Linked DNA regions of Homo sapiens: region 2 is linked to region 1. The links come from fine-mapping of genetic effects on gene expression. A gene starts in region 1. The other region holds a variant in brackets. All regions are shown on one strand. Distances are from middle to middle. Region 1 holds the start of SPTLC3 (serine palmitoyltransferase long chain base subunit 3). Region 2 overlaps LINC01722 (long intergenic non-protein coding RNA 1722).

Evidence for each region.
Region 2: its variant is fine-mapped to the expression of SPTLC3 in whole blood (TOPMed, PIP above 0.99).

Annotation. Positions count from the first base shown.
Region 1 is chr20:13,007,668-13,010,579 of GRCh38, forward strand. SPTLC3 (serine palmitoyltransferase long chain base subunit 3) reads left to right here and starts at 1,305. Exons shown (of 12, transcript NM_018327.4): 1 at 1,305-1,717. The coding sequence starts at 1,601.
Region 2 is chr20:12,924,882-12,927,793 of GRCh38, forward strand. LINC01722 (long intergenic non-protein coding RNA 1722) reads right to left here. Exons shown (of 12, transcript NR_109868.1): 5 at 1-27. Among named protein-coding and RNA genes, the nearest start is that of LINC01723, 24 kb to the right of the region's middle. RefSeq lists a silencer at 1,637-1,837. The variant C/A (reference allele first, on the strand shown) is at 1,650.

The sequences.
Region 1 (2,912 bases):
AGAGACCAGTGAAAATCTACTTCTACTTTGATGATAAAGGTTGAGAGAAATGCGATAAAATTTTTGAACTTGAGACACAAACTGGGCTGAACACACTTGGTATTAACTCCGTCTTTCACCTTGGCCTCAGGCCTTATCTTATTCCTCCAGCATTCCTTGGGATGGTAAAGGCAGGTACCCTCATATGCAAGTCATAGTTAGGAGAAGCGTTAGCATGTCCACCTCCAAAAGCTACATTAATCTGGAGTAGAACTGAACCCTGTCCAAGGGAGCTGAGTTACAGGACATGAGGCTCTGGAAACAGGGGCCATTTCTTTCTTTTTGTTTGTGTGTGTGTGTTTGATTGTTTGTTTTTGTCTACTGCCCCAATAAATTGGTTTCTTTTCTTAGAGTCTGATGCTAAAGAAGTCTCGACTCAGGAAAACCACAAGGGTGGACTTGGGAAGACTCAACAGGTTGTAATGACTCTCCAGCAAATCATGTCACCATGCCATTTGATGATGGTAGGAAGAAACAAAGCCTTGAAGATTCATGCATTGAGAGAATAAGAGTTAGTGAGTAAACCAGATGTGTTTCAGGACTGGGACCCTGCAGTCATCAACCACCTCACACCTGCGTCAGTAACAAACCCAAGCTACAGCATGATTTTTGTTCTACCTCAGCAGATATTTTATAGATGGAAAAACTGAGGCATAAAGTGGGTAAATACCTCCCCCAAGGTCACGAGATAAAGATAACGCAGTCATCAAATATTCTGTCTCCTCAACATCTGTCTTACTGGAATTCTTGATGGATTGGTACCCCCTTATTATAGTACTGATTTTAACATAGGTTGGTTTTGAATACTGGGTTTTTAAAAATCTTTTCAAATCATTTGTAAATTATGGAAATGTATACATCACATGAAACTTACCATTTTAATCATTTTTAAGTGCACAGTTTAGTTTAAGTACATTCACATTGTTGTGCACTGATCCATCACTATACCTTTTTCATCTGCTCCAGCTCAAACTCTGTACCCATTAAACAATAACTTCCCTTTGCCTCATCCCTCCAGGCCCTGGCAACCACCTCTGAATGCTATTTTATAGCAAAAAGAAATATTAACTTTTGAGCTTGGTTTACAACCAAAAACCACAATTACATGCAGGAGAGAGGGGGTGGGAAAAAGAGGTTAACTCAGAACTCAGTTACTTAGAAGACTCTGTGAGTGTGCTGTGTGTGTGTGTCTTTAAAAGACTCTCCACCTCCCAGCCCGCCTCCTCACACTTTGCCACTGGGTTGTTCAGTCCCCAGGTTCCCTCAGTCCCCAGAAGGAGCCAGCATGGACAATCTCCTTTACAGTTTCGGAAGCAGGTTTGTTGCCATGGAGTTCACATTTTGACGGGAGTTGAGAAGTATAAAGGTAACCATTTGTTTTAGTTTCAACGATCTGACAAAAAGATAGGCTGTTGCTCTTCTTCTGGAAAAGCCTGATTGGTAAGATTCCTTTAAGGGCTCAGCCCCAAAGAGCTTTATCCCATCCCCTCGCAGACTGAAAACTAAAGCCTGCAGAGACCTCTGAAGGAAAACCTGTCCCGGGCTCTGTCACTTCACACCCATGGCTAACCCTGGAGGTGGTGCTGTTTGCAACGGGAAACTTCACAATCACAAGAAACAGAGCAATGGCTCACAAAGCAGAAACTGCACAAAGAATGGAATAGTGAAGGAAGCCCAGGTAAGAGGCACTCTCCCCTACTCTTCTCTGAATTACCTGAACGTTTCAATATTTCTCTGTGAAGATATTTGAGGCTGTCCTAACTTAGAGTTCATCTTATGAAGGGTTTTTACATGTTTTGACTGTTGACTCTGTTAATAGAAAGTGCTTGGCTACCAAAAAGTTTAGGTGTGGATTAAGGAGAAAATGTCTTCTGTATGCAAAAGAGGATACACACAGACTCACACAGCTTCAGGCTCCCTAAAATACAAATGTACCTACTAGACTTTTGTCTCAAGCATTTTGCGGGGAGGGAAGAATTAAGAAAGTTCCAACTCTTTGCATATATTTTTGTCCAAGAGACCTGCTACAACCGTCATGCTTCAGAAGAAAAAGAGGAAGTGAAAGTACATTTTGCTGACATTATGTGGTGGAGATGGCATTCTTCCCAGGTCCATGAGAAATGCATCACTGTTTGAAAGGCGAGTTATTATTGGTGTGTAGTGGAGCATTGTTTTAGCTCACTACTTGATTTGAGGCCACAGTATTTCTTTGAAATGTGACGTCACAGACATTCTTTTCCAAAACACTTCAGAAAGCAGGGCTGATTGTGACACACTGCTCTCAGAAAACAGAACAGCATCTTTAAAACAAACTTGTATTTTCCAACTTGACACTTTTTTTTTTTTTCACTCTTATTGCACCGGGATGTTTGCAGAGTGTCCTAGGCAGGAGGAACTCGAGGAAAGTTGTCAGCTTGTTTTAAGAGAGAGCCTGGGTCTGTGAGGTCCTTATGTAAGGCAGTTCCCCACTCCCCACAGGACATCCCGTGTCACTCTGCTCTGAGCAGCAGAAGTGAGCTCATCTGCCTGAGGAGCAAGCCCAAGTAGTCAAACAGGTAGCCTCCTGTTTGGAAAGAGAAGTGGCACAGGGAGCCCCATGCAATCTTCCATCATTTGATCATCCAGAGAGCAAGTATCCACCCACAGGAAAGGCAGATTGTTCTAAGATCACAGGACAGGTGGGTCTGGCTGGGGCCAGTCCTCCTCTCAGTGAATTACATTCGTGTGTGCAATTGGAAGAGGCTAAAGGAGCTCTAGAGCCTGAGTTGTGTGTAAACAGGCTGTGGTCCCCAAAAGCATTCCCCTCTTAACAAAAGGCACTGTCCAACGCTGGGAGGTGTCTATCAGAAACCTCAGAACTGGCCTGTCCCACC
Region 2 (2,912 bases), 83 kb before region 1:
TGACCCTGGCCATCACTTGGCTTCCACCTGTGTAAAATGGGAAAAAGGTGTTTTCCTAGTCATTAAAAATGTAATATATGAGGCACAGCTTATTAATTTCTAGGTAGAAAACTATACGATTACTCAAGTCAATTGCATGTCATTGCTAATTTAAAGAAAAAGATAATCAATTGATTTTGGGTGAACAGTTTTAATTTGAAGCAGGATTAGTCAAGATAACAATGTATTTTAGCCAGAAATAAATTTAAGTCTGTAGTCATTAGAGTTAAAATATTCTTTCTAATAGCTATACAGTACAGAAAAAGACTGCTGAAGAAATTTGACATGTAATAAAAAAGAGAATGAAGAAAAAGTGAGAGTGGATTTAAAAGGCTGCTGTTCCGTTTTCAGACTGCAGGCTGCCCCCCTGCTGAGCTGCCCAGCTGCTCAGTTCATTTCTTAGTGAAGTGCCTTTTTTGGGCTTAGCCACAAGATGTCAGCCTAAGCTTAGCCATTTGTGCATTTTTCCGCGCCTCCAACCCATTTCTTCCCTTCCATTTCATTTCCTCTTTCGGCTCTGAGCAAATGAATAATCTTTTGGATTGTGGGCACTAGATGAATAACAATGGAGTAACTGGAGCATTCAAAGGGCCTCTGCTGATAGCAGCTTCCACCAAGTCTCAGGAAGAGCCCCCTTTCCTTCCCATTGCAGTCCCCAAGCCTGGGAGGCCATTGTCCTCTCTCAGGCCAAGTGTATCTATGTGTTGGCGCTTCCTACACAGGGACAAAAAATCCAGGATCCGTGACCCCTAGGAGAGAATGCTGTTAACCTGTCTCCCAGGAAGGTGGATAAAGGCGATTTCAGGTTGGCTCAGCAGCCCTGGGAACTTTCAAGGGTGAATACTGCTTTCTCAGCTGCAACCTGTCTTCCCCAATGCATCGGCATTTGAGAACAAGATACCCCACCTGGGTACGAGATGCCTGCAGTACCTCTAAGAATCATGTTCTCACCACATTGGTGAAGGCAAAAAATGGGCAGATTTTCTTTCCCCATGGATTTTTGTAAAGGTGAAAATTTTCCAGACACCCCCCCTACACACACCAGCAAATGTACACTTACAACTGACTGGTCAGAAATCAGTCACCTGCCTGTCCCTGAAACCATCAGCAGTAAGAGGAGTAGGGATGCCATAACTGGTTTAGATTAGTGAGATCCATCTCCTGGGCCTAGGGAGGGTCCACCTTCCTTAAGCACATAGCTTTTGCCAGAGATCAGTACTCCCGGAGCTGAATTCCAGGGCCTGCCGTGATGACCCAGAACTCAGGACACAGCCCTGTCTCCCAGGGGCTCAGTGAACACACGTCCAGTCACGACTGCCCAGGGAGATTTGCAGTGGGCTAGAGTTTTGCTAAAGAGAGGCCAGGCAACCACCAACTAAACTACCTGCCCTTTGCTGGAGAAAGAGGAGGAGGAAAAAGAAATAAATGCTGCTGAGACTGACAGAGCAGGAGCACCGTCATCTCAGACAAACACCGCCACTTTAAGCTCCAGCTCCCCTTCTAGCCTCATGCATTTCAAGGAAATCACTTCTCTTCTAACTACAAGCAGCCAGAAAGAGCAGACAGTAAAACACAGATAAGACAGCTCGGGCACAGAGGAAAGTAGGGGG[C/A]AAGTCGCTTGGGTAACTGCCAAAGTTCACCCTCATACAACGGGCCCCAGTAAAACAGTGGGCCTTAATAAGCACATTCCTTTCCCTTCAGGTGCACTAAGATAGGGAAGCTAAAAGCAGACTCAGGGGGCTATGCCTGCAGCTGCAGAAAGATATATGAGAACAGACACACAACTCTCCTTCCCAGATAAGCACAACAAAGAGACACAGAAGCAATCCAAGCCTCTGATAAACTCTCCTATCCTGAATTCTTAAAAACTCTTGGTCATAAGAGAGTGTGGCTCTGACCTAGCTTGGCCAGCCGCCCCTCTCAGGTTTATTTAAAATAAACTTGTCCCTGTTGACTGTAAAGCCACCCTTGAAGTTTCTCTCCTCTTTCTTTAATTCTTGCAGTGACTATATTGTCTCTGGCATCAAGAGGACTGGGGTCAGTCCAGTAGCTCTGGGCTCTGGGACCTGCTCTGCTTAGACTGTCTGAGAACCCGAGAGCATGGTGCCTCTGTTCTCTGGGTCTGTTTCCTTCAGAGAAATGCAGTCTGTTCCAGGATGTACAGCATCAGAACCAGCCTGGGCTATAGGCCTCCTATGGAAACAGGCAGGCTCAGGCCCATGCTTATCTGTCTCTCACTGTGCCATTGAGCCACCAGAGTCATGGGAGCCAGTGTTTTCCAACCGAAGGGACTTCTGTGCCCACTTTCTAGAACCTCTCCTTGAGCCGACCTATGGGGATAAAACACACACACGAAAGCAGGACATCCTGAGGAAGGGACCCTGGGAGGAAGATGAACAGTGAGACCATTCCTGTTCATCCTTGTAGAATAGGAGATAAGTTGATTTATCATTCATTAGACAGAACTGTGTAATAAAGGTATTTATGTGTGCAAGGCTGTGGTATGCAACAACTCTGGGGGAAGGAGGAAGAGAAAGAAATGAGACTTGGCTTTGGGTTGGATGTGCGATGCTTTTTCTCAGAGAAATCAATTTTTTGCAGAAAGAAGCATGCTGTCTATTGGGATGTCGCTGCCCCACGAACAGTCACTACACCCTTGATGCATCCTCTGCGGGGGGCTCAGGGCCTCAGGAACACTAAACACCACAGGGGACCAGGCTTCATCCTGACACACACTGGGAATCAACCCAGCTGTCATTTCCATGGGTGTGGAAGAAAACTAATGACTCAAGGCTTGAATCATAAGTGGTCCAGCTTCCACTGGCAGAGGTAGATAAGTCAGTGAGAAACTCAGATACATTCACAGCAACTGC